7 linked regions of the Homo sapiens genome follow. The protein of the gene in region 1 purifies or fractionates together with the protein of each later gene. This does not show direct contact. Each region holds a gene or a part of one and is shown on either strand. Other genes may lie near its edges.

Region 1 (3,500 bases):
ACAGCTCCAGCTGCCTGGGCCACCACCGGCCCCGCCTCGCCATGAGGAAGGTAGATGGCTCCCAGCTGTGGGATACCGCTGACCAGCCCACTTAAGAGGAATAATAATTAAAGAAATAAATTTCCTCCCCTGGTGTCAGCAGAAATTTGACTTCAACAAGAAAGTGCAGCAGCCTTCTTGGAAGGGGTGGGGGTGGCTGTCCTGGCTGACCCCCTGGGCTCTGGGCCCCTGACGGCAGAGGACAGTATGGCTTCTACCCCCAGCTTCCCCAGTCCCTGAAGCCGAGCCCTCCCTCCTGGGCCCGCCTGCCACCTGAAGGCCTGAGCTCCAGGGTCCCTCCCCACAGAATCCTGTGTGGGCCCCCAGTGAGCATGGCCCATATGTGGCCACCATGAGCCTGATGGCTCCTGTGGTGGGGCAGAGGCCCCAGTCTCTGGCCACAGGGCTGGCCTTGGCTTGTTCTGTGTCCCCAAAGCCCCCAGCCACCTGTGGCCGTGGCCCTCCCTGCTGTGGGCCAGCTGCTGCGTGTTCCTGGCACGTCCGGCCTCTGCGCCTCCCCTGCTGGTCACCTGCCCACCCTCCCTGGGGTGACGAAGGCCCTGTCGGCTTGCCCCCGCCCCACACTGCCTCTTCTGGGGCACCCTCTGCCGCTGGCTGCCTTCTCCCAAGGGCACAGCCTCCATGTGCCAGACGGACGTGCCCTGGAGGGCCTGGTGGGCGCGCTGTGAGCAGACCAGGGCTTGGCGCAGCCCTGCCTAACTTCTTGGGAGAGTGCTGGCCTGGGAATTGGGGCTGCCTGCGTGCCCCGGTCATCGTGGATGTTGTCCCTTGGGCCAGGCAGCAGCTGTCCAGTGGGTGCTGGCCGGAGCAGGGCCTGGAGGTGCTGAGGAACCTCTGACTGCAAGGCCCCCACCCCGCTTGCCTTGCAGAGCCTGACATCCAGCGGTGCCCAGAGCTGGCACTGGGGCACCGAGCAGGGGGTGGGGCTGGTGGGAGCCGAGTCTATTCTGAGAAGATCCCGGGGAAGTGAAAGTTCTCTGGAATGCATGGCGCCTTCTGCTGTGGAGCTGCTGGGGGTTATTCAGTTGAACTTTTTAGCACTTCTCAGGCAGCCCTTGCTTCTTTTCCAGCCAGCTATTTTATGTGCATTTTTTAACACTGCAAAGCATTTGAAAAAGTGCCTCCTGTTCTTGTCAGAACTCCTGCCGTGAGCCTCACACTGGCATTTTTTTAAAGAGCACAAAGTGGAAAGGGAGGTAACCCCTCCTGCTGCACCCGGTCCTGCCAGGCGGGCACGTGATGCCAGTGTGTCCCTGCCTGGAGCAGATGGCGTCGCAGTGTCACTGGCAGCCTGGGCGAGAGACTGGGAACCAGCAGTGCCGACAGACCGCCGCATTGCCGCGTCCCTCACCCCACAGGCTGGCAGGTGTGAGGGCGTGCCCGTGCCGTCTGGACTGGGCCCTGCTGCCCACCCGGGGACAAGGGTCCCGGCCTGAGAACGGGGGCTGCCCTGAGCACCCCCGCGTTGGTCCCTCCGCACCAAGACCCTCATCACCCTCCCTTTGCCCCTGGCCCCCCACACGCCTCAGGTTTCTGCGTTCTTCAACGCCCCCTTTCCTGCCCCAGGTACCATGACTAGCTCCTGCTCCTGCCCCAGCCGGGCTCGCTGGCCACTCAGCTCTGGAGCTGCCCTTTTGAAACTTGAGACGGGCTGAGTGGGGACAGTAGGCAGGGCCCCTGAGGGTGAAGGGCAGCAGCACCACTGACCCTAGCTAGGGAGCACTGGGCTGGACGCAAAGCACAAAGCGAGGAGTGGGGGGGGCTCCAGCCTGGGGGTGCGAGGGAGCGGAAGCCTTGGGTCCTCGGGTGGGAGTCTGCGGCTGCTGGGCCATCTGGGAGAGTGAGGACGAGGCTGCTCTCTGGTGCTCAAGAGTGGGGCAGGTCTGGCTATTTGGGGCTGGGCGGCTTTGGGACATCCCTTTTTAAACCAGGATGGCTTTGTCACCACCTCAGGTCCCCAGAATTTCTGAGTGATGTCACCTCTGCCTCTTAACTGCAGTGTCCATTTCAGCATTTGCCCTGTAGGAAATTGGATCTGGTCTGGGAAGGATCATGCGCGTATTTGAGGAACCCGGGAAAGCCGCCCTCAGCAGGCTGGTCCTGCCCTGCCCACCCCGTGATCCTGGGTGACCTCTGTCTGTAAAAGGCAGGCAGGGCTGTGTCACCGGAGCAGACCCTCCTCCTCCAGATGGCACCCCCTCCCCGCCTCATCCCCTTGGCTCTCAGGCCTGGCAGCACTCGGCCATGTCCAGCCCCAAGGTCCATTTCCTTCCTGCCACCACCGCACTCCCAGGCCGCCCTCCCAGGCCGTGGTGTGCGGTTTCAGAAAGGCGGGGGTGGTGCTTATGCTTGGGGTTTTGAGGAGCATCTGATGAGGCACCTCTAAAATTTAGAGTAACAGACACTAGCCAGGATCTGCCAGCGCCAGCCCAGGGCTTCAGGGACAGGTGCCCTTCCCCCAGACCTCCACAGCTGCAGTGGGCAGCTGGGCAGATGCCTCCGCCAAGCGGGCTTTGCCCCCACACCTTCTCTGCTGCATGTCTTTAGTTTTATAGCCCTCTAAAAGTCAGAAGCCATTCTTGCTCCCAAAAGGCCAGACCATGTGTGCCCCATGGGCCATATTCACCCCCTGGTCTAAGTGACCCCGCGGGTCCTGCCAGCCCAGGCCCTGGCAGAGGGAGGTGCTGCTGTTAGCAGCTGTTCTGTTTACAGGGCAGCTTCCTGGGTGGCCAGGGCTGAGGAGAGAGCCAGGAGCAGTGTCCATAGGCCAGTCACTGCCTTGGCCCAGGGTGGGCACCCAGGGACATGAGGAAGCCAGCAGGGGGGTTCCAGCCAGCAAAGCGTGGCCCTGGGGAGCCTGGCCAGGGAGGCAGCAGGGACAGGCGGGCGTCTCCAGCCCACGTGGCCAAGCCCTCCGCGGGTGCTGCCTGGCTTTGCTGGCTCTGAGGGCAGGGACAGGAGCCCTGCCCGGACCCTGCCCTGGAGAGGAGCTAGACACAGGGCCCAGCAGCTCCCCACTCTCAGGTGCTGTGTCCCCAGAGGGGCCTGGCAGGGCCCAGGGCATCTGAACCACTGTGGGGAGGGGAGCTCTGGGCAGTTTCCTGGAGGGGAGGCTGTGCCTGAGCTGAGTGTTGGGACCCCTGAGGGCCTCGACTAAGGGGGTCAGCAGGGAAAGGGCGTGCGGGCCAGGCTGTGGCCTGCTATGACCCGTGCCTCTCTCCCCCACAGGCCGGCTGGATCCTGCAGGCAGCTGTAGCCGTTCCCTGGCCAGGTAATGCCTTTGGGCTGGGCAGTGGGTGGGCTCCCTGCTCGCCCTCAGGCTCACGCACCTCTCTCCCCGTCTGCAGCCGGGCAGTGCAGCGCAGCCTGGCCATCATCCGGCAGGCGCGGCAGCGCAGGGAGAAGAGGAAGGAGTACTGCATGTACTACAACCGCTTCGG
Region 2 (3,500 bases), on another chromosome or scaffold:
TACACCCAAGACATTCCATTCCCAGGGACGAGCAGGAGACAGATGCCTTCCTCTTATCTCAACTGCAAAGAGGCCTTCCTCTTTCACTAACCCTCCTCAGCACAGACCCTTTATGGGCGTCGGGCTGGGGGACAGGCTGGGAGACAGTCAGGTCTTTCCCTTCCCACGAGGCCATATCTCAGGCTATCACATGGGGAGAAACCTTGGACAATACCTGGCTTTCCTGGGCAGAGGTCCCTGCGGCCTTCCGCAGTGTATTGTGTCCCTGGGTACTCGAGATTGGAGAATGGCGATGACTTTTATCAAGCCTACTGCCTTCAAGCACTTTTTTAACAAAGCACACCCTGCACAGCCCTAAATCCATTAAACCTTGAGTCAACACAGCTCATGTCTCTGCAAGCACAGGGTTGGGGCTAGGGTTACAGTTTAACAGCATCTCAAGGCAGAAGAATTTCTCTTAGTACAGAACAAAATGGAGTTTCTTGTGTCTACTTCTTTCTACATAGACACAGTAACAGTCTGATCTCTCTTTCTTTTTCCTACAGTCCTTTTTTTTTGGAGACAGAGTCTCGCTCTGTCGCCCAGGCTGGAGTGCAGTGGTGCGACCTCGGCTCACTGGAACCTCCGCCTCCTGGGCTCGAGCAGTTCTCATACCTCAGCCTCCCGAGTAGCTGGGACTACAGGCGCACATGCCACCATGCCTGGCTCATTTTGTTTGTATTTTTAGTAGAGACAGCATTTCACCATGTTGGCCAGGCTGGTCTCTTGACCTCAAGTGGTCCACCCGCCTTGGCCTCCCAAAGTGCTAGAATTACAGGCGTGAGCCACCGCACCCAGCCCATTACATCTATTTTAAAAAACTATTATTTTTGGCCAGGTGCGGTGGCTCACACCTGTAATCCCACCATTTTGGGAGCCCAAAGTGGGCGGATCACGAGGTCAAGAGATTGAGACCATCCTGGCCAACATGGTGAAACCCTGTCTCTACTAAAAATACAAAATTTAGCTGGGCGTGGTGGCACGTACCTGTAGTCCCAGCTACTCAGGAGGCTGAGGCAAGGGAATCACTTGAACCCAGGAAGTGGAGGGAGGTCGTAGTGAGCCGAGATCACGCCACTGCACTCTAGCCTGGCGACAGAGTAAGACTCCATCTCAAAAAAAAAGAAAAAAAACTAATATTTTTATTGTTTTTATTTATTTTATTTTATTTATTTATTTTTTTGAGACGGGAGTTTTGGCTCTGTCACCCTGGCTGGAGTGCAGTGGTGCGACCTCGGCTCAATGCAACCTCCACCTCCCAGGTTCAAGCAATTCTCCTGCCTCAGCCTCCCGAGTAGCTGGGATTAAAGGCGCCCACCACCATGCCTGGCTAATTTTTTTGTGTTTTTTGTAGAAGACGGGGTTTCGCCATGTTGGCCAGGCTGGTCTCGAACTCCTGACCTCAGGTGATCTGCCCACCTCAGCCTTCCAAAGTGCTGGGATTATAGGCGTGAGCCACGGCACCCAGCCTTGTTACTGTTTTTGGTGACTCACCTGCAGTGTGTCTCCCTTCTTGAGTGTAAGCTCAGTAAGGATAGGCTGTGCCCGCTCTGCTAACCCCAGGGCTGCTGCTGGGCAGGTAGTGAGTTGTCAGTGCACCTCTGTGGAGTGCAGCAATACACGCAGAGCTTACATCATCCTCAAAGTAGGGACTGCCCTCTTTGCTTTTCAGATAAGGAAACTGAGGCACAGAGAGATGAAGGGACATGTCCAAGGCCACCCCACTTGAATGCACCGGGGCTGGGATTTGAGCCCCAGATGGCCTGACTCTAGCAGGGTTCTTTCTGCCGCTGAGCTGCCTATCGCCTGCCTTTGTCCAGATGGCCCTTCTCTGGCCAATAGCGAGTGCTAGGCTTCACCACGGATTGTCAACCCTGAGCACATGCCTTAGTCCCCTGGAGGCTCAGTAAGCTGAGTGTCACTCAGCTCCGGGGCTTGTGACTTACCAGATCAGGTGGCCCTGAGAATGTGCATTGTGCCACTGGTTCGGGGCCACCCCTAGAGCACTGCAGTGCATCCTCCCACTTGCCACAGGCATGCCTGGTTTCAAGGTGATGGTGTCATCCCCATTTTCGCGAGGAAGTGCTAACTTGCCCGGGAGCCCTCAGGTAGTAAGCACTACAGGCCCTTTCCCCTTGACGGGGTGGCCTGAAGGTGGGGACATCAGGAAGACCTTGCTGCCAGGACCCCAGGCCTGGAGTGGGCTGACAAGTGCCCAGGGCAGGGTAGCTCCTGTTTGGTACATCTGGGTGTGTGGGCTCAGTTTTCAGAGTCCCTTCAATGTGTCTGAGTTTGGAGAGCTGGGCTCTGATGTGTCCATGGCTCTGCCTTAGAGCCTGGCCTGGTGGATGCAGTGACGGGGTCCTCTCCAGCCTCAGCCTCCTCTGGGGCAGCTGCTCACCTGTGCGTCCAGCTGATCCCGGGCCACCACTGAGCTTCTTCCATCTCCACAGATGAAAAAGCGGGACCTGGAGCCCTCGGACGCCACCTACACGGCCCTGTTCAACGTCTGTGCCGAGTCCCCCTGGAAGGACTCAGCTCTACAGAGCGCCCTGAAGCTCCGGCAGCAGCTGCAGGCCAAAAACTTCGAGCTCAACTTGAAAACATACCACGCGCTGCTGAAGATGGCTGCCAAGTGCGCAGACCTTAGGATGTGCCTCGATGTGTTCAAGGTGGGGCTTCCCCTGCCGTCCTGCTCCCCTTCATGGGGCTGGTCCCACGTGTCAGGGGCAGGGCTGTGGTGTCTGTCTCTCCTCATGTAGGAAGGCTTAGGGAGGATGAGACAGCCGGTATTGGGCCCTGGGGTTCACAGATGGATCTGATGAGACCTTACTGGAGATTGTGTATGCCACCGTGTGCTGTGTCCTGCTTTGTGCACTCGAGGGAAGGCTTCCTAGAGACAGGGTCTTGCTATGTTGCCCAGGCTGGTCACAAAACTCCTGGCCTCAAGTGATCATCCTGCCTTGGCCTCCCAATGTGCCAGGATTACAGACATGAGCTACCATGCCCAGCCTGCTGCAGGTTCTCAGTGGGACGTCTTTGTTCCCTCCCCCAGGAAATCATCCACAAAGGGCACGTGGTCACAGAGGAGACCTTCAGTTTCCTGCTCATGGGCTGCATCCAAGACAAGAAGACAGGCTTCCGGTACGCCCTCCAGGTATGTCCCTCCCACCCCACCTTCCTGCCCTGCTTCCCCGGTGCCAGAGGTGCAAAATGGTGATCCTGTGAGCACCCACGATGGCCCTGTGCTGAGTATTTTTATATCTGTGCTCTTTTCTGAAAACCCAGCAGCCACTGTAGCCTCCATTCTACAGATGGCAGGGAGAGGAGGCCCTTGGAGATGGAATGAGGGTGGCCCCCGCCCCTCCCACCCTGCTTTGCAGTCGGCTTAGCCCCTCTAAACTCACCTTCCTTGAAAGCCTGCCACACACTCACCTGGGGACTTGTTCAACCCTCCCACA
Region 3 (3,500 bases), on another chromosome or scaffold:
GGACAGCTCTGAGTATAATCTTTAGCCTCTTTGAGCGTCAAGTTCCCCATCAGTAAAATGGGGGTAAAAATACTGTCTGAAGGCCAGGCGCAGTGGCTCATGCCTGTAATCCCAGAACTTTGGGAGGCCGAGGCAGGTGGATCACCTGAGGTCAGGAGTTTGAGACCAGCTTGGCCAACATGGTGAAACCCCATCTCTACCAAAAAATACAAAATTAACCAGGTGTGGTGCTACACTACACTCCAGCTTGGGCAACAAGAGTGAGACTCCGTCTCACAAAAAAAAAAAAAAAAAATTAGCCAGGCGTGGTGGCGGGCACCTGTAATCCCACCTACTCGGGAGGCTAAGGCAGGGAGAATTGCTTGAACCCAGGAGGCGGAGGTTCCAGTGAGCCGAGATCATGCCATTGCACTCCAGCCTGGGAGACAGAGCAAGACTCTGTCTCAGGAAAAAAAAAAAATACTGATTCCTGTGGGTGCTGTGCAGTCGGCACAGAGGAAGGGCCCAATAAACGGTGGCCACTGTGGTCACTTCCTGCCTTTCTCCCGGTCTGTTTCTCCCTCTGGCTGAGGGACAGAATAACTCTGCATTCACTCGTGGGGAGACAGAACAGGGAGAGGGGGCATGAGATCATGTCTGCCTGCCTGTGCCTCAGGAAGCAAGACAAGGGGACTGTGACTGTCGCGGCTGGAGGATGTGGGCACCACCTGACCCTGGGGACACAGATGGCTCATGACTAGGGCTTTGTGTGTCCAGACCCAGCCACATGCAGGCCCTGGCCATTAGGTCCAGAGTCACGCGCCTGGCTGCCCCATGATGCAATGATGGTTTTCCTTCTCCGGACCAGGGGTATTCACTGGCCATGGGACCCAGAACAAGTCACCTAAATCCTACTTTCTTCTTCCATAAAATCATATAGTATCTACCTAATAAAGTTGTTGTGGTAAATAAATGTGCATAAAGGGCCTCGAACTATGTCATGTGTGGGAATCACTGAATAAAGGTGGGTGACTGTGGTATTAACCTGTGATTACCTCCGTCCCACCTATCCACTCCCCAGCTGATCAGCCTTGGGGCAGGAATCAGGGCAGGAGAGGAGTGGTGGGACGTGGGTGCCAGGTAAGAAGTGGGCTGGGCTCCTGGTAGCTTCAGGATCTTTTCTCAAGCCTTATCACTGTACCCCCAGGCTTCTCACATCACCTACCAAGTACTCCAGAAGCCTGGGCATCCAACCGATGTCCCACGCCAACCTTGAGATGGGCGAATGCTGGTCCACATACTGGAAAGAAACAAACAAGGTCCATTTTCTCAACTAAATGCCACCCCAGGATGGCTTTGGGCTGCATGTTGACCTCGTTCTCAGAATGGGCCTCATGGAGCCCAAACTAGCATCAGGCCAGACTCTCAGGCTTCCCCGTCATGGAATCTGGGACCCTGAACTGTATCCTCAGTGCCCTGGGATCCAAAGGGCAGCCCAAGATGCCTCTTACTCTGCCTATCATCAGTCTCCCAGTGAGAGGCTCTAAGAAGACTGGCGTAACACTGAAGGTCAAGAGTGCGGGGTTCCCTGCCCAGCTCTACTGAGGAAGAGTCCCTGGAGGAAAATGGAGGCTGTGAGCTCCTTAAGGCAGAACCTGGGTGTGTCAACTCACTAGCTGCTCAGGAAAGAACTACTGAAAGAATAAATGCAGGAATGAGCCAGAAGTGTTTACACTTCTACAGATTAAGAGGAATCTAGGGGAAGAGTCCAGGGTAGTTAAGGGCCTATTGAATCCAGGCCATGTTACTAAATGTCAACACTGAGCCTCAGTTTTCTCCCTTGTGAAATGAAAATAGGACCCATCTCACAGCACTGTGGTGATATCAATGAGGATTGTACTTGGGGGAAGCTTAACACAATGCCTAGTACAGAGTGGCGACTCAATACATTATACTTCTTATTGTTACCATATAATAGAGTCATTGAATATCACAAGTCCAACGGGTTTTTGAGGTTTCTGGTCAAACCTCTAGATTCCCTGACACATGCCTTAATCACATCTAGTGATGGGGACACATTACCAGAACCAGTTCCATTGTTGGGCAACTTTATTCAGTAAAAAAATCACTCTTTCGGCTGGGCGCAGTGGCTCACACCTGTAATCCCAGCACTTTGGGAGGCCAAGGTGGGCGGATCACCTGAGGTCAGGAGTTCGAGACCAGCCTGGCCAACATGGTGAAACCCCATCTCTACTAAAAATACAAAAATTAGCTGGGTGTGGTGGCACACACCTGTAATCCCAGCTACTTGGGAGGCTGAGGCAAGAGAATAGCTTGAACCTGGGAGATGGAGGTTGCAGTGAGCTGAGATCACACCACTGCACTCCAGACTCCAGCCTGGGCAACAGAGCAAGACTCTGTCAAATAAATAAATAAATAAACTTATTCTTTCCCAGAAACCCAAAACCCCTACCTTAGGACTTCTACCTAGGGTCTCATTTCTCACCTGGAGTCCCAGAATAGAAAAAGGGTCAGCAAACTACAGTCCACAAGTCAAACCTGAAGACTGAAGACTGTTTTTTTTTTGTGTGTGTGTGTTTGCTTGTTTTGTTTTGTTTTGTTTTGAGATGGAGTCTCACTTTGTCACCCAGGCTGGAGTGCAGTGGCGCCATCTCAACTCACTGCAACCTCCACCTCCCAGATTCAAGCGATTCTCATGCCTCAGCCTCCTGAGTAGCTAGGATTACAGGCACCTGCCTCCATACCTAGCTAATTTTTTGTATTTTTAGTAGAGACGGAGTTTCATCATGTTGGCCAGGCTGGTCTTGAACTCTTGACCTCAAGTGATCCGCCTGCCTCGGCCTCCCAAAGTGCTGGGATTACATGAATGAGCCACCGCATCTGGCTTGTTTTTTGTGGCCTATGAGTTAAGAATGGTTTTTGCATTTTTCAGTGGTTCAAAATAAATCAAGAGACCAGTTGCAAGGGCTCACGCTTATAATCCCAGCACTTTGAGACGCCGAGGCAGGCAGATCACTTGAGCCCAGGAGTTCAATACTAGCATGGGCAACGTGACAAAACCCCATCTCTACAAAAAATACAAAAATTAGCCAGGCATGGCCGGGCGTGGTGGCTCACACCTGTAATCCCAGCACTTTGGGAGGCCGAGGCGGGTGGATCACGAGGTCAGGAGATCGAGACTATCCTGCCTAACATGGTGAAACCCCGTCTCTACTAAAAATACAAAAAATTAGCTGGGCGTGGTGGCGGGCGCCTGTAGTCCCAGCTACTCGGGAGGCTGAGGCAGGAGAATGGCGTGAACCCAGGAGGAGAAGCTTGCAGTGAGCCGAGATCGTGCCACTGCACTCCAGCCTGGGCAACAGAGCATGACTCCGTCTCAAAAAAAAAAAAAAAATTAGCCAGGCATAGTGGCCTGTGCCTGTAGTCCCAGCTACTCGGGAGGCTTAGGTGAGAAGACTGCTTGAACTCAGGAGGCAGAGGTTTCAGTGAGCCGAGATCTC
Region 4 (3,500 bases), on another chromosome or scaffold:
GCTGCCACATTGCTCTTGAGAAAGGGTTTAATTTCATTTCCCTTGGGCAGTGCTAGAAAGCTCTCATTCTCGTCCATCTCATGTCTCTTAAATGAAGTGGAGGTTTTGCTGTCTTAGTGAAGAGGCATTGTCCTTTGACTGCATCAGTGTTATTACCTCATTGCTATTGTCAGCCCATCTTCAAGCATTGGGCCACCTAGAGATAAAATGTCAAGCCATTTGAGGCCAAGCAAAAAGAGGCAGTGAGTTCATTTATTTGTTCTTAGAATTATTTGAACTTTCGTTGGCTTTGTATTCTGCCGATTTGAATTTTTCCTTCCGCAACAGGTATAGTAGGTAATGCAGTAAAGACAAAACTATTTTTGTTTACCTTGGGTAAATGTCCTAGAGACTAGTAAATAAACAGATTCTAAACCTTATCAGAAAAATACTGCTGTATATGGGAGCTATGGAGTATAGGTTGTGATTCAGGTCCTGCCAATTCCATTTTGTAATTCTCTGTGACATACTGCCTAATTCAGTCATGCTTTTTTTTAGTTTAATGTTTTATTGTGGTAAAATATATGTAACAAAAAATGTGGCCAGACGCAGTGGCTCACACCTGTAATGCTAGCACTTTGGGAGGCTGAGGCGGGCGGATCACCTGAGGTCAGTAGTTTGAGACCAGCCTGACCAACATGGTGAAACCCAGTCCCTACTAAAAATACACAAATTAGCTGGACGCAGGGGCGCACACCTGTAGTACCAGCTACTTGGGAGGCTGAGGCTGGGGAATCGCTTAAACCCGGGAGGCGGAGGTTGCAGTGAGCCAAGATCGCACCACTCATTCCAGCCTGGGCGACAGAGCGAGACTCCGTCTCAAAAAAAAAAAAAAAAAAGTACTCTTCTAACCATTTGATGTGATCTCGGCTCACTGCAATCTCTGCCTCCCGGGTTCAAGCGATTCTCCAGCCTCAGCCTCCCGAGTGGCTGGGATTACAGGTGCCCGCCACCACGTCTGGCTAATTTTTTTGTATTTTTAGTAGAGACAGGGTTTCACCATGTTGGTCAGGCTGGTCTCGAACTCCTGGCCTTATGATCCACTGCCTCAGCCTCCCAAAGTGCTGGGATTACAAGTGTGAGCCACTGTGCCCAGCTCTTCTAACCATTTTCAAGTGTACAGTTTAGTGATACTAAGTTCATTTACATTGTTGTGCAATCATTGCAGCTATCCATCTCCAGAACTTTTTCATCATCCCAAACTGAAACCCTGTACCCATTTAACACTAACGGTCCGTTTCCCCTCTCCCCCAGCCCCTGGTAACAACATTCTACTTTCTCTCTCATGAATTTGACTGGTTTAGGTGCCTAATATAAGTGGAATCATACAGTATTTGTCCTTTTGTGTCTGGCTTATTTCACTTAGCATAATGTCTTCAAGGTTCATTCGTGTTGTAGCAGGTGTCAGAATTTTCTTCTTCTTTTTTTTTTTTTTTTAATTAATTATTTTTTGAGACAGGGTCTTGCTCTGTCACCCAGGCTGGAGCAGTAGCCTGCTCATGGCTCACTGCAGCCTCAACCTCCTGGGCTCAAGGAGTTCTCCCACCCCAGTCTCCCCAGTAGCTGGGATTACAGGCATGCACCACTATGCCCAGCTAATTTTTGTATTTTTTGTGGAGATGGGGTTTTGCCATGTTGCCCAGGCTGGTCTCGAACTCCTGGGCTCAAGCAGTCTGCCCTCCTTGGCCTCCCAAAGTGCTGGAATTACAGGTGTGAGCCACTGAGCCAGCTGGAATTTCCTTCTTTTTTAAAGTTGAATGCTATCTTGTGTATATATGTGCCACATTGTGTTTATCCATTTATTTGTTGACAGACATTTGGGCACACTTTTTAAATTCAGTTTGTTTCTGGTCCATCTCCAACTGGGTTTGATACTGTTTTTTTTGGTACATTGACTTTACCCTAAAGCATCCTTTTAGTCTTGATGGTGCTTCAGTTGCTCATTTGGGGTGCTTTCTTATTTAGAAATGAAGCTCAAGAAGAGATCTATAAAAAGGGACAGTCCAAAAGAATATGGGGTGAGCTCTACAAGGTAAGACTCCTAAATTCTCTCCCATTGAGTGGTTCCTTGGGCTTTCATGATTTTGTAGAAGAAAACTAATTTTGATATATTGAAGCTCTGTTGCGCAGAGTACAGGCACCACTGCCTGTTCCATCCTCTTCCTCCTACAAAGAAACTCGGAAGGCGTACTACCATTGATCTAGGTAACTGCATTTTTTAAAGTACTTGTATAAGAGTAACAGCTATCTTTTATTATACAATCACATATTTATTACCTGTCAGTATTTTTTAAGATTTCCTGCCAAATTTATCATGCCTAGTTAAAGTCACATGCAACATTTTAAGTTATTTAGTCCACCCCTCTCCTTTTATCGATGAGGACTCCTGTCTAGAAAGGTTTAATGCTGTACCTAGCTCGACTAGCTTGTTAGTGAAGGAGGCTTTGTATATCTTGATTTCTGATCCAGTGATCTTTAACCGGCAGAGGTTTATGTCCATGCACTAATAATAACCTTCAGAAGAAAAATTTTCAAGTATAATCACGTAATTAAATAGTAACATGATAGGAAACTAGTACCGTGAAGGCAAGCTAAACTTTGTAGTTTTTTGTGAAATACACAAAACCTATAATATTACAAACTTAAAGATAATATTACAAACTTAAAGAAGTCTAAGAAGTAAATGATTTAGTTCAATAATCCATAGTAGTTAGGAAATAAGTTGAGTTTCATCTAAGCTAGTTTTTCTGTTTTAAATTCAGCAGGTTTCAAAAGCCACAGGATGAAAAACCTTTTGAATTCTGATCACTGGGCCTTGAGATTAGCCACAACGAACTCTGCCCAGAGACTGTTTTGAAGTTGTCTCTAAATATTATTATTTTATTTTTCCCAGACTCCCTTAAATGTCATCCCTCTTTTATTTGTACTGTAGCAAACCATTTTTGCCTTTCTGAATTTTCAGGTGATAGATTCATCAGATGTTGTAGTTCAAGTTCTTGATGCTAGAGATCCAATGGGTACTCGTTCCCCTCACATTGAAACTTACCTGAAGAAGGAAAAACCTTGGAAACACCTCATTTTTGTACTTAACAAATGTGACCTTGTTCCAACCTGGGCAACAGTAAGTACAACTACTAAACCAGAATAGACTATTAAGACATCTGTTAGTAAGTCAGTTGTAGGGCTTTTAGGCTAAAGTGTTGTCCGGCTGAGATTGTAGTAATGGGAGTGCTCTCATTGGAAACACGAAAGTGTGCTCATTGATAGTGGGCAGAGGCACCAGGAGACGGCTTCTGAGGCCACTGCCTGCTTCACATTATGCTCCATTAATTGCATTTAGTAACAATGAAGACATTTTTTGGAATATTGTTTTGTATTTATAAGACAGAAGAACAAAGCATTAACTGTTATACTTGGAAAAAACATTTCAAAGAATTATAGCTAACATTTTCCTTAGACAA
Region 5 (3,500 bases), on another chromosome or scaffold:
AATTTGACGCCAGCCTGGGCAACATAGCAAGAACCTATCTCTAAAAATAAAGAAAGAAATTGATATGTGTGATTATAAAACTGTAATATTTTTCACAGAAATTTTGGAAAATACAAGTTTCAAATTATACACCAGGCATGGTGGCTCCTGCCTGTAATCCCAGCACTTTGGGAGGCCGAGTCAGGCGGATCACCTGAGGTCAGGAGTTCAAGACCAGCCTGGCCAACATGGTGAAACCCCGTCTCTACTAAAAATACAAAAATTAGCTGGGCGTGGTGGTGGGCACCTGTAATCCCATCTACTCCGGAGGCTGAGGCAGGAGAATTGCTTGAACCCGGGAGGCAGAGGTTGCAGTGAGCTGAGATCGCTCCACTGCACTCCAACCTGGGTGACAGAGCGAGATTCCATCTCGGAAAAAAAAAAAATTACAAAATTGCCCGTAAATCTACTATTTGTAACCACTGTTAACTATAGTAGCTCATTTTAGTATATAGTCACAGCCTGCCTTTGTGTATATTAATGGGATGATACTGTATGTGTTCAGCAGTCTCTTAACAAGAATTAAACATTTCCCAATAATATTAAACATTCTTTAATTTAATTTGAATTTTTTTGAGATGAGATCTGACAGGCAGAGAGTAGTGGCACTAACATAGCTCAATGTGGCCTCCAATTTCTGGGTTCAATTGATTGTCCTGCCTCAGCCTCCAAAGTGGCTGGGACTACAGGTGTGAGACACTGCCCAGCCCATTTTCTTAAATTTTTTGTAGATACAGGATCTCACTTTGTTGCCCAGCTTTTCTTGAACTCCTGGCTCAAGTGATCTTCCCACTTCCGCCTCCCAAAGCACTGGAATTACAGGTGTGAGCCACTGCACCCAATCTAATTTAATTTTAATGGCTGCATAGAATAACGTATAAATGAGAGATTGTTATGTACCAAGACAGTGTTTGAATCTGGGGGTGTAATGTTGATCACTTCAAACTTAGCCTTTTTTCTGAGACTGAAGTGTGATATATAAATAATTTCATAATACAGGGCTACCATAATTTATCTGTATTATGGAACCTTTAGGCTTTTTAATGGTTTTCTTTATTAGAAAAATATTTTAATGAATATTCTTAGGTATTAATATTTGTATGTATTTCTAATGATGTTCCTAAGATAACTTCCTGAAAGGAGAACTATGAGGTCAAAGGATATAGCTCTTGAAGTTTGTTGATATATATTATAAAATTCCTGCAGGAAATGTAAAAAAATATAATCCCAGCAGAATGTGAGAAGGCCTGCTTTCCTGTGCTCTCACCAACCTACATATTACCTGTCAACTTGATAGGTAAAAAATTTGTCTTATATTTAAAATTTGTATGTCTTTGAATACTAGTGAGGTTGAGGATTTATTCCTTTGCAAAACATGTATTTTTTGTCATTTGCTCATTTTGGTGGTGTATTGATTCCTTGTATACCTTTTTTTTTTTTTTTTTTTTTTTTTGAGACAGGGTCTTACCCTGTCACCCAGGCTGAAGTGCAGTGGCGCGATCTTGGCTCACTGCAGTCTCTTCCATCCGGGCTCAAGTGATTCTCCCATCTCAGCCTCCTGAGCAGTAGCTGGAACTGCAGGAGTGTGCCACCATGCCTGGCCAATTTTTTTGAATTTTTGTAGAGACAGGGTTTTGCCATGATGCCCAGGCTGGTCTCAAATTCCTGGACTCAGGCGATCTGCCTGCCTTGGGCTCCCAAAGTGCTGGGATTACAGATGTGAGCCACCACTACAGGGCCGTTGTTTCTTTTTAATAATGGCTTTATTGAGACATAGTTCACTTGCTATAGAATTCCCCCCTTAACCATCCTCAAGCCCCTTTTAGCCACTAATCTACTTTTTGTCTCTGGATTTACCTATTCTTGATGTGTTACAGAAATGGAACCATGCAATATGTTTTCTTTCACTTAGTGTAATGTTTTCAATAGGTTTCATCTGTTGTAGCATGTATTATTTTATCATTTCTTTTTATTGCCAAATATTTTATTTTATGAATATACCACATTTTATTTATCCATTCATTAATTGGTGGACATTTGGGTTGTGTCTACTTTTTGGATGAATAATGCTGTTGAACATTCACATACAGGTTTTTGTGTAGATATGTGTTTTCCATTCTCTTGGGTATATACCTAGCAGTGGAATGACTGAGTTGCATGGCACCTCCATATTTAACATTTTGAGGAACTGCCAAACTGTTTTTGAAAAACAATTTCAAAGTGGCTTCACTATTTTACAATTTCACCAGCAAGTTTGAGGCTTTCTATTTCTCCACATCCTCACTAATGGTTATTACCTGTCCTTTAGTTTTAGCCATTCTGATAGGTATGAAAGTATCATTGTAGTTTTGATTTGTGTCTCCCTAATAACCATCTTTTCATGTGCTTGTTGACTATTTGTATATGTTTGGAGAAATGTCTGTTCATATCCTTTGCCTGTTTTTTAATTGGGTTGTTTATCTTTCGATTGTTGAGTTATAAGTGTATTTTATATATTCTGGACACCAGTCCCAGTCCCTTCTCAGATATATGATTTGTAAACATTTTCTTCCATTCTTTGGGTTGTCCTCTTACTTTCTTGATGATGTCCTTTTTTTTTTTTTTTTTTGAGACGGAGTCTCACTCTGTCACCCAGGCTGGAGTGCAGTGGCTCGATCTCAGCTCACTGCAAGCTCCGCCTCCTGGGTTCACAGCATTCTCCTGCCTCAGCCTCCCGAGTAGCTAGAACTACAGGCACCCGCCACCACGCCTGGCTAATTTTTTGTATTTTTAGTAGAGATGGGGTTTTCACCGTGTTAGCCAGGATGGTCTCGATCTCCTGACCTTGTGATCTGCCTGCCTCAGCCTCCCAAAATGCTGGGATTAGAGGCGTGAGCCTTTTAAGCACAGAAGTTTTAATTTTGATGAAGTCCAATTTATGTAAGTCATGTGCTGCATAATGATGTTGTGGTCAGTGATAAACACATACACAACAGTGGTCCCAAGAGATTATAATACTGTATTTTCACTGCACTTTTTCTATGTTTAGATATGTTTAAATACACAAGTACAATTTTGTTACAGTTGTTACAGTATTTAACAGTAACATGCTACACAGGTTTGTAGCCAAGGAGCAATTGACTATACCATGTAGTCTAGGTGTGTAGTAGGCTGTACCACCTAGGATTGTGTAAATACATAATGATGTTTGTACATGACAAAATCACCTAGCCATGTCTTTGTCAAAAAATATTGTTAAGTGGCGTATGACAGTATTTTTCCTTTTGTTTCTTGTGCTTTTGGTGTCATATGTAAGAAATCATTGTCTTATTCAAGGTCATAAAAGATTCACTCTTGTGTTTCCTCCTAAAAGTTTTATAGTTTTAGCTCTTACATTTAGATCTATGACCTATTGTTTGTTAATTATCATACAGTTGTTCCTCAGTATCTGTTTGGGATTGGTTCCAGGAACGCTTGTAAAT
Region 6 (3,500 bases), on another chromosome or scaffold:
CCTAAAATACGGGGCTTCCCCTATGATCTCTGCATCTGGCAATGGCATTGCCATCCACCTGGTTGCCCAAGCCAGACTCTGAGTATCATCCTTCCCTCTTCATCCTCACCTCTCCAGTCTAGTCGACCAGCCGACTTAGTCTTATCCTGTCTCCTGTCTTCCTCTTCACTATGTCCAGAGGTTGTCCACTTCTCTTTTTAAAAATTTTTTAAATTAATTTTTTATTTTATTTTATTTTGAGACAGGATCTCACTCTGTCACCCAGGCTGGAGTACAGTGGTGCAAAAACAGGTTGCTGCAGACTCAACCTCCTGGGTTCAAGTGATCCTCCCACCTCAGCCTCCCGAGTAGCTGGGATCATAGGCGCATGCCACCATGTCTGGCTAACTATTTTTTTTTTTTTTTTTTTTTTTTTTTTTGTAGAGACGGGGTCTTGCTATGTTGCCTCGGCTGGTCTCCAACTCCTGGACTCAAGCAGTCCACCTGCCTGAGCTTCCTAAAGTACCAGGATTACAGCTGTGAGCCACCATGCCCGGCCTAAGATCTTTCTTCAGTCTTGGCCAGGTGCAGTGGCTCACACATGTAATCCCAGCACTTTGGAAGGCCAAGGTGGGTGGATCTCTTGAGCTCAGGTGTTTGAGACCAGCCTGGGCAGCATAGTGAAACCCTGTCTCTTAAAAAAAGTGTGTATGTGTGTATTTCTTCAGTCTTGATGGTATTAACAAGACTTCTTCCAGGTGTGTCCTGAGAGTCTCTGGTCATGTAGTCTGTGGTAGATTTTTCACTGAGATATGATTGTCCTCTTCAACCTAAAAATCGCCTTGGAAAATAAGCCAAACAAGCTATACGTAGACATTTTAGGAGTATTGGGGTTCTCTAGTTCTTTATATGTGGTATCTCCTCTATGCTTATTAATCAGAGTCACATCGTACCTGGTGGTTTTTTTTTTTTGAGGCGGTGTCTCGCTCTGTCGCCAGCCTGGAGTGCAGTGGCACCATCTCAGCTCACTGCAACCTCCGCCTTCCAGGTTCAAGTGATTCTCCTGCCTCAGCCCCCCGAGTAGCTGGGTCTACAGGCGCCCACCACCACGCCCAGCTAATTTTTGTATTTTTAGTAGAGACAGGGTTTCACCATGTTGGCCTGGATGGTCTCGATCTCTTGACCTCATGATCCACCGGCTTTGGCCTCCCAAAGTGCTGGGATTACAGGTGTGAACCACCGTGCCCGGCCCCCATGCATGGTGTTTAATAAGCTCTTGTGGCTGGGCATGGTGGCTCACACCTGTAATCCCAGCACTTTGGGAGGCCGAGGCAGGCAGATCACTTGAGGTCAGGAGTTCGAGACCAGCCTGGCCAATATGGCGAAACCTGGTCTCTACTAAAAATACAAAAATTAGCCAGGCCTGCTGGTGCGTGCCTATAATCCCAGCTACTTGGGAGGCTGAGGCAGGAGAATCACTTGAACCTGGGAGGTGGAGGTTGCAGTGAGCCAAGATCATGCCAGTGCCCTCCAGCCTGGGGGAACAGAGCGAGACTCCGTGTCAAAAATAAATAAATAAATAAATAAGCTCTTGCTTTCAAGGAAACCCTAATCTAGTTGGTTTTTGAATAGAGTAGATTTTTAGTACAGTAAAACAGTCTGTGAGATTTAAAATTTTTTTTCTGACTTTAAAATATTTGTATTAAATGTAGAAATGTTGAAATTTAGAAGAATATAAATCTAAAAATCAGTCATCTGTAATCCTGCTTCCTGCCTAATGGCAGCTGTTACCAATATTTATATATATATTTTATCCCACTGTGTCATGCTATATATATGAAATGTGTGTGTATATATACATATATACACATATATACGTATGTATACACATATATGTATATATGACATATAAGTACATATATGTATGTATGACATATATGTATGTTACATATAAGTACATATGTGTATGTATATGATACGTGTATGTATATATGACATATAAATACATATACGCACATATGTAATATATATTATATATATACACACACACATACACTCATATAGTTTGAGTATCTCAAATTCAGAATGCTCCAAAATCTGAGACTTTGTCAACGTGATGGTCAAAGGAAGTGTTCTTTGGAGCTTTTGGGATTTCAGATTTTCAGATTTGGGGTGCTTAGCTAGTAATGCAGATATTCCAAAATCCCAAAAACCCTAAATCCAAAACACTTCTGGTCTCAAGCATTTCGAATAAGGGATACTTGACATATATATGTATATATATATAGTTCAGAGTATATTCTATATGTAGTTTTGTATTCTCCTTTTTCCTCTAAAGCTCATATCGCACATTTCTGTGGGATCCAGGTAAAAAATCTCCACCCAACCATAGCACAACACAGATTTATATCAGAAAAGTAGCTAATTTTTGACTGCCAGGATTAAGCTGCTTTTGACAAAGTTATATGTTTAGCCCATGTGTTCCTGATGGTTAGCTTCCTCTTTATGATCATGCACTACAAATGGAGGGGGATTCTCTTTTGTATTTTCTCTTAGGTAGTTCGAGGACACTACAAAGGTCAGCAAATTGGCAAGGTAGTCCAGGTGTACAGAAAGAAATATGTCATCTACATCGAGCGGGTGCAGCGTGAGAAGGCCAACGGCACAACTGTCCACGTGGGCATTCACCCAAGCAAGGTATGGTCAAGGACTGAGTGGCAGTAGCAGCCATGGAGTGTGTCAATACTGTTCAAAGTTATTGGTGTTTTGGTACTCCCTGCACAGTTGGCTGAGGCAGGCCAGGTGGACTTGATTGATTCAGTAGCTTTGTGATATCATCAAGGATCCAGATTTTTCTTCTCTTCTCTTTTCTGTTTTGCCTTTCTTGGTGATGGCTGTGTCTTTTTTTTTTTTTTTTTTTTTTTGAGACGGATGCTCGCTCTGTCACCAGGCTGGAGTGCTGTGGTGCGATCTCGGCTCACTGCAACCTCCACCTCCTGGGTTCAAGCAATTCTCCTGCCTCAGCCTCCCAAGTAGCTGGGACTACAGGCACACACCACCACGCCCAGCTAATTTTTATATTTTTAATAGAGATGGGGTTTCACCATGTTGGCCAGGATGGTCTCGATCTCCTGACCTCGTGATCCGCCCGCCTCGGCTTTCCAAAGTGTTGGGATTACAGGTGTGAGCCATCATGGCCGGCCGATGGCTGTGTCTTTAAGCTGGTTGCAAGAGGCTTCCAAGTGTTCTAGGCATCACTTCCCCTACCACATAATATTCAGAGGAATAAGAGAGAATATATCTTCCTGTAGCCCTCATGCCTACCTAGTGGAACATGCTATTTTTCCTTTGTGTTCCTATTTTGTATTGTGTTACAGGGTCTGTTTTCCTTCCAGAGTTTCAGTTCCTTAAAAGCTGAATGGCTGAGGTCTTACTTAACTTATGATGTCTATATTGCTCAATAGCTGGTGGGGATGCAGAAATAAAGACCTGTTTTCTCACTCCCAACAGGTGGTTATCAC
Region 7 (3,500 bases), on another chromosome or scaffold:
CCTTTCTTAGTCTTAGTCTGTTGAGAATTGGTCATAGAGGAGGCAGTTAAGACCAAAAGAGTAGCCAAAATTGTATAGAGAAAGGTTGTAAAATAAAAAGGTGGGGCCTATACACAAAACCCTGGTACATGACAGAGCAGAAGAAGATGCCAAAAACAGGGTAATTGGAGAGATAGGGAGAGAACTAGGAAAGCATAAAGAAGAGATATACAAAGACAGCATACCAGGGTCTCTATCAGATGTAATAGTGGGATGGAGTCAGAAGACTTAGTGACCATTGGACTTGCGGATGTAAAAAGAATGGGAGGTTTTACAGAGAAGTTTCTGTGAAAGAATAAAGAAATAGAAATTGCCTTTACAAAGATTTTAGATGAGAGAAATGCAAAGGCAAGAAAGTTTTGTTGTTTGTGGTAAAATATATATAACGTAAAACCTACCGTTTAATCTTTTTTTTGGAGACAAGAGTCTCGCTCTGTCGCCCAGGCTGGAGTGCAGTGGCTCGATCTCAGCTCACTGCAGTCTCCGCCTCCCGAGTTCAAGTGATTCTCCGGCCTAAGCCTCCTGAGTAGGTGGGATTATAGGCACCCACCACCACGCTTGGCTGATTTTTCTATTTTTAGTAGAGATGGGGTTTCACCATGTTGGTCAGGCTGGTCTCAAACTCCTGACCACCTCGGCCTCCCAAAGTGCTGGGATTACAGGCATGAGCCACTGTGCCCAGCCCATTTAACAATTTTAAACTGTGTTGTTCAGTAGCTTTAAGTACCTTCACATTGACTTACAATCATTACCACCATCCGTCTCCAGAAATTTTTTCATTTTGCAAAAACGAAACTCTGAACTCATTAAACAATAACTCCCCATTTCTCCTTCCGTAGGCAGCTACCATTCTACTGCCTGTCTCTATGAATTTGACTACTTTTCAGTATCTCATAAAAGTAGAATCATAGATTTGTGACCGACTTATCTGACTTAGCATAATGTCTTCAAGGTTCATCCATGTAGTAGCATGTGCCAGAATTTCCTTCTTTCTTAAGGCTGAATAATACTCTATCTTACGTATATACCACATTTTGTTTATCCCCTTATTCATTGATGGACACTTAGATTGCTTCCACCTTTTGGCTATTGTGAATAATGCTGGTATAAATATGAGTATAGAAATACTGTTCATGAGGCTGGGCGCAGTGGCTCATGCCTGTAATCCCAGCATTTTGAGAGGCCAAGGTGGGCGGATTGCTTGAGCTCAGAAGTTTGAAACCAGCCTGGGCAACATGGTGAAACTCCATCTCTACAAAAAAGACAAAAAATAAAATAAAAAATTGGCTGGGCTTGGTGGTGTGTGCCTGTAGTCCCAGCTACTTGGAATGCTGAGGTGGAGGATTGCTTGAGCCCAGGAGCTTGAGGCTGCAGTGAGCCAAGATTGTACTACTGCACTCCACCCTGGGTGACAGAGCAAGACGCTGTCTCAAAAGAAAAAAAAAAAAAAAAAAGGCTGGGTTCACACTTGTAATCCCAGCACTTTGGGAGGCCAAGGCGGGTAGTTCACCTGAGGTTAGGAGTTCAAGACCAGCCTGGCCAAAATGGTGAAACCCTGTCTCTATTAAAAATACAATAATTAGCTGGGTGTGGTGGAGGGTTCCTGTAATCCCAGCTACTTGGGAGGCTGAGGCACGAGAATCGCTTGAACCTGGGAGGTGGAGGTTGCAGTGAGCCGAGATTGTGCCACTGCTCTCCAGCCTGGGCAACAAGAGCGAAACTCAGTCTCAAAAAAAAAAAAAATTGTTTATGTCCTTGCTTTTAATGCTTTGGGGTATGTGCAAAGAAATGGGATTGCTGGATCATATAGTGATTCTGTTTTTAATTTTTTTTCTGTTCACCAGCCTAGCACAAAGCTGAATGTTTTTAATTTTTTGAGGAGCTCCTGTATTCTTTCATAGTGGCTACACCACTTTACATTTCTCTAGCAGTGCAGAGTTTCCAGTCTTCACATCCTCATCAACAACTTATTTTCTCATTTTGGTAATAGCCATCCTAATGGGCATGACGTGATATCTCATTGTGGTTTTTATTTGTATTTCCCTAAGGATTAGTGATGTTGAGCATATTTTCTTTTGCTTATTGGCCATTTGTATATATTCTTTGAAGAAAAGTCCTTTGCTTTTTTGTTTGTTTTAAAGAGACAGTGTCTCACTTTGTTGCCCAGGCTTCAGTGCAGTGGTGTGGTCATAGCTCACTGCAGCCTGGAACTTCTGGGCTCGAGTGATCCTCTCACCTCAGCCTCCCAAGTTGCTAGGACTAGAGGAGTAGGAGTAGTCAAATTCATAGAGACAGAAAGTAGAATGGTAGGAGTTACTCCACAGTGCCCAGCTAATTTATTTTTTATAGAGACAGGGTCTCACTATATTGCCCAGACTCTTTGCCCATTTTAAAATCAGGTTGTTTGTTGTTTTGTTGTTGAGTTGTAGGAGCTCTCTATATATTCTGGATATTAATCCCTTATCAAATATGTGATTTGCAGATGTTTTCTGCCATTCTGTGGGTTGCCTTTTTACTCTTTAGAGTGTCCTTTGATGCACGAAAGTATTTAATTTTGGTGAAGTTCAGTTTATTTTTTCTTCTGTTGCCTGTGTCTTTGGTATTATATCTAATAAATAATTGCCAAACCAGTATCATGTTTTCCCTATTTTCTTCTAAGAGTTTTATAGTTTTAAGTCTCCTGTTTAGATATTTAACCCATTTTGAGTTAGTTTTTGTAGGCGGTTAGTTTTCCATGTGGACATTTCCTCAGCAACGTTTGTTGGAAGGACTGTCCTTTGTGCATTGAATGGTCTTGGCTCCATTGTTGAAAATCATTTGACCATAGGCACAAGGGTTTATTTCTGGGCTCTGTATTCTGTTTCATCAGTCTGTGCGTCTGTCTTTTTGCCAGTTTCAGACTGTTTTGTTTACCATAGCTTTGTTCTAAGTTTTGAAATCAAGAAATATGAGACTCCAACTTTGTTCTTTTACAAGATTGTTTTGGCTATTTGGGGTTCCTTGAGAGTCCATATAATTTTTTTTTTTTTTTTGAGATGGAGTTTCGCTTTTGTTGCCCAGGCTGTAGTACAGTGGCACAATCTCGGCTCACAGATTCAAGCAATTCTCCTGCCTCAGCCTCCCAAGTAGCTGAGGTTACAGGTGCCCGCCACCATGCCCAGCTAATTTTTTGTATTTTTAGTAGAGATGAGGTTTCACCATTTTGGCTAGGCTGGTCTTAAACTCCTAACCTCAGGTGATGCACCCGCCTTGGCCTCCCAAAGGGCTGGGATTACAGGTGTGAGCCACCGTGTCTGGCCCCACATAAAGTTTAGGTTGGATTTTTCTGTTTCTTCAAAAAATATTGTGATCTTGATATAGATTGCACTGAATCTGTAGACTGCATTGGGTAGTATTGGCATCTTTACAATATTGTCTTCCCATCCATGAATATGAAGTATCTTTCCATTTACTGGCATCTG

Evidence for each region.
Region 2: the proteins of ZC3H3 (region 1) and PTCD1 purify together in Homo sapiens (affinity purification with mass spectrometry; 3 studies listed by BioGRID and IntAct, with this or other methods). This does not show direct contact.
Region 3: the proteins of ZC3H3 (region 1) and TRUB2 purify together in Homo sapiens (affinity purification with mass spectrometry; 3 studies listed by BioGRID and IntAct, with this or other methods). This does not show direct contact.
Region 4: the proteins of ZC3H3 (region 1) and GNL2 purify together in Homo sapiens (affinity purification with mass spectrometry; 3 studies listed by BioGRID and IntAct, with this or other methods). This does not show direct contact.
Region 5: the proteins of ZC3H3 (region 1) and MRPS35 purify together in Homo sapiens (affinity purification with mass spectrometry; 3 studies listed by BioGRID and IntAct, with this or other methods). This does not show direct contact.
Region 6: the proteins of ZC3H3 (region 1) and RPL26L1 purify together in Homo sapiens (affinity purification with mass spectrometry; 3 studies listed by BioGRID and IntAct, with this or other methods). This does not show direct contact.
Region 7: the proteins of ZC3H3 (region 1) and MALSU1 purify together in Homo sapiens (affinity purification with mass spectrometry; 3 studies listed by BioGRID and IntAct, with this or other methods). This does not show direct contact.

What each region holds. Positions count from the first base shown.
Region 1 is NC_000008.11:143,468,448-143,471,947, reverse strand, and holds part of ZC3H3 (zinc finger CCCH domain-containing protein 3), read left to right. Parts: intron 1-3,288; coding exon 3,289-3,331; intron 3,332-3,407; coding exon 3,408-3,500. UniProt on the Homo sapiens protein: Required for the export of polyadenylated mRNAs from the nucleus. Enhances ACVR1B-induced SMAD-dependent transcription. Binds to single-stranded DNA but not to double-stranded DNA in vitro. Involved in RNA cleavage.
Region 2 is NC_000007.14:99,428,799-99,432,298, reverse strand, and holds part of PTCD1 (pentatricopeptide repeat-containing protein 1, mitochondrial), read left to right. Parts: intron 1-2,492; coding exon 2,493-2,711; intron 2,712-3,094; coding exon 3,095-3,196; intron 3,197-3,500. Other genes in the region: ATP5MF-PTCD1 (ATP5J2-PTCD1 fusion protein), read left to right, coding at 2,493-2,711, 3,095-3,196. UniProt on the Homo sapiens protein: Mitochondrial protein implicated in negative regulation of leucine tRNA levels, as well as negative regulation of mitochondria-encoded proteins and COX activity. Also affects the 3'-processing of mitochondrial tRNAs.
Region 3 is NC_000009.12:128,315,948-128,319,447, forward strand, and holds part of TRUB2 (pseudouridylate synthase TRUB2, mitochondrial), read right to left. Parts: intron 1,280-3,500; coding exon 1,205-1,279; intron 953-1,204; exon of another isoform or gene 1-952. UniProt on the Homo sapiens protein: Minor enzyme contributing to the isomerization of uridine to pseudouridine (pseudouridylation) of specific mitochondrial mRNAs (mt-mRNAs) such as COXI and COXIII mt-mRNAs.
Region 4 is NC_000001.11:37,582,438-37,585,937, reverse strand, and holds part of GNL2 (nucleolar GTP-binding protein 2), read left to right. Parts: intron 1-2,004; coding exon 2,005-2,071; intron 2,072-3,001; coding exon 3,002-3,160; intron 3,161-3,500. UniProt on the Homo sapiens protein: GTPase that associates with pre-60S ribosomal subunits in the nucleolus and is required for their nuclear export and maturation.
Region 5 is NC_000012.12:27,724,332-27,727,831, forward strand, and holds part of MRPS35 (small ribosomal subunit protein mS35 isoform 1 precursor), read left to right. Parts: intron 1-1,245; coding exon of another isoform or gene 1,246-1,254; exon of another isoform or gene 1,255-3,500.
Region 6 is NC_000005.10:172,965,924-172,969,423, forward strand, and holds part of RPL26L1 (ribosomal protein uL24-like), read left to right. Parts: intron 1-2,535; coding exon 2,536-2,676; intron 2,677-3,489; coding exon 3,490-3,500.
Region 7 is NC_000007.14:23,302,339-23,305,838, forward strand, and holds part of MALSU1 (mitochondrial assembly of ribosomal large subunit protein 1), read left to right. Parts: intron 1-3,500. UniProt on the Homo sapiens protein: Required for normal mitochondrial ribosome function and mitochondrial translation. May play a role in ribosome biogenesis by preventing premature association of the 28S and 39S ribosomal subunits.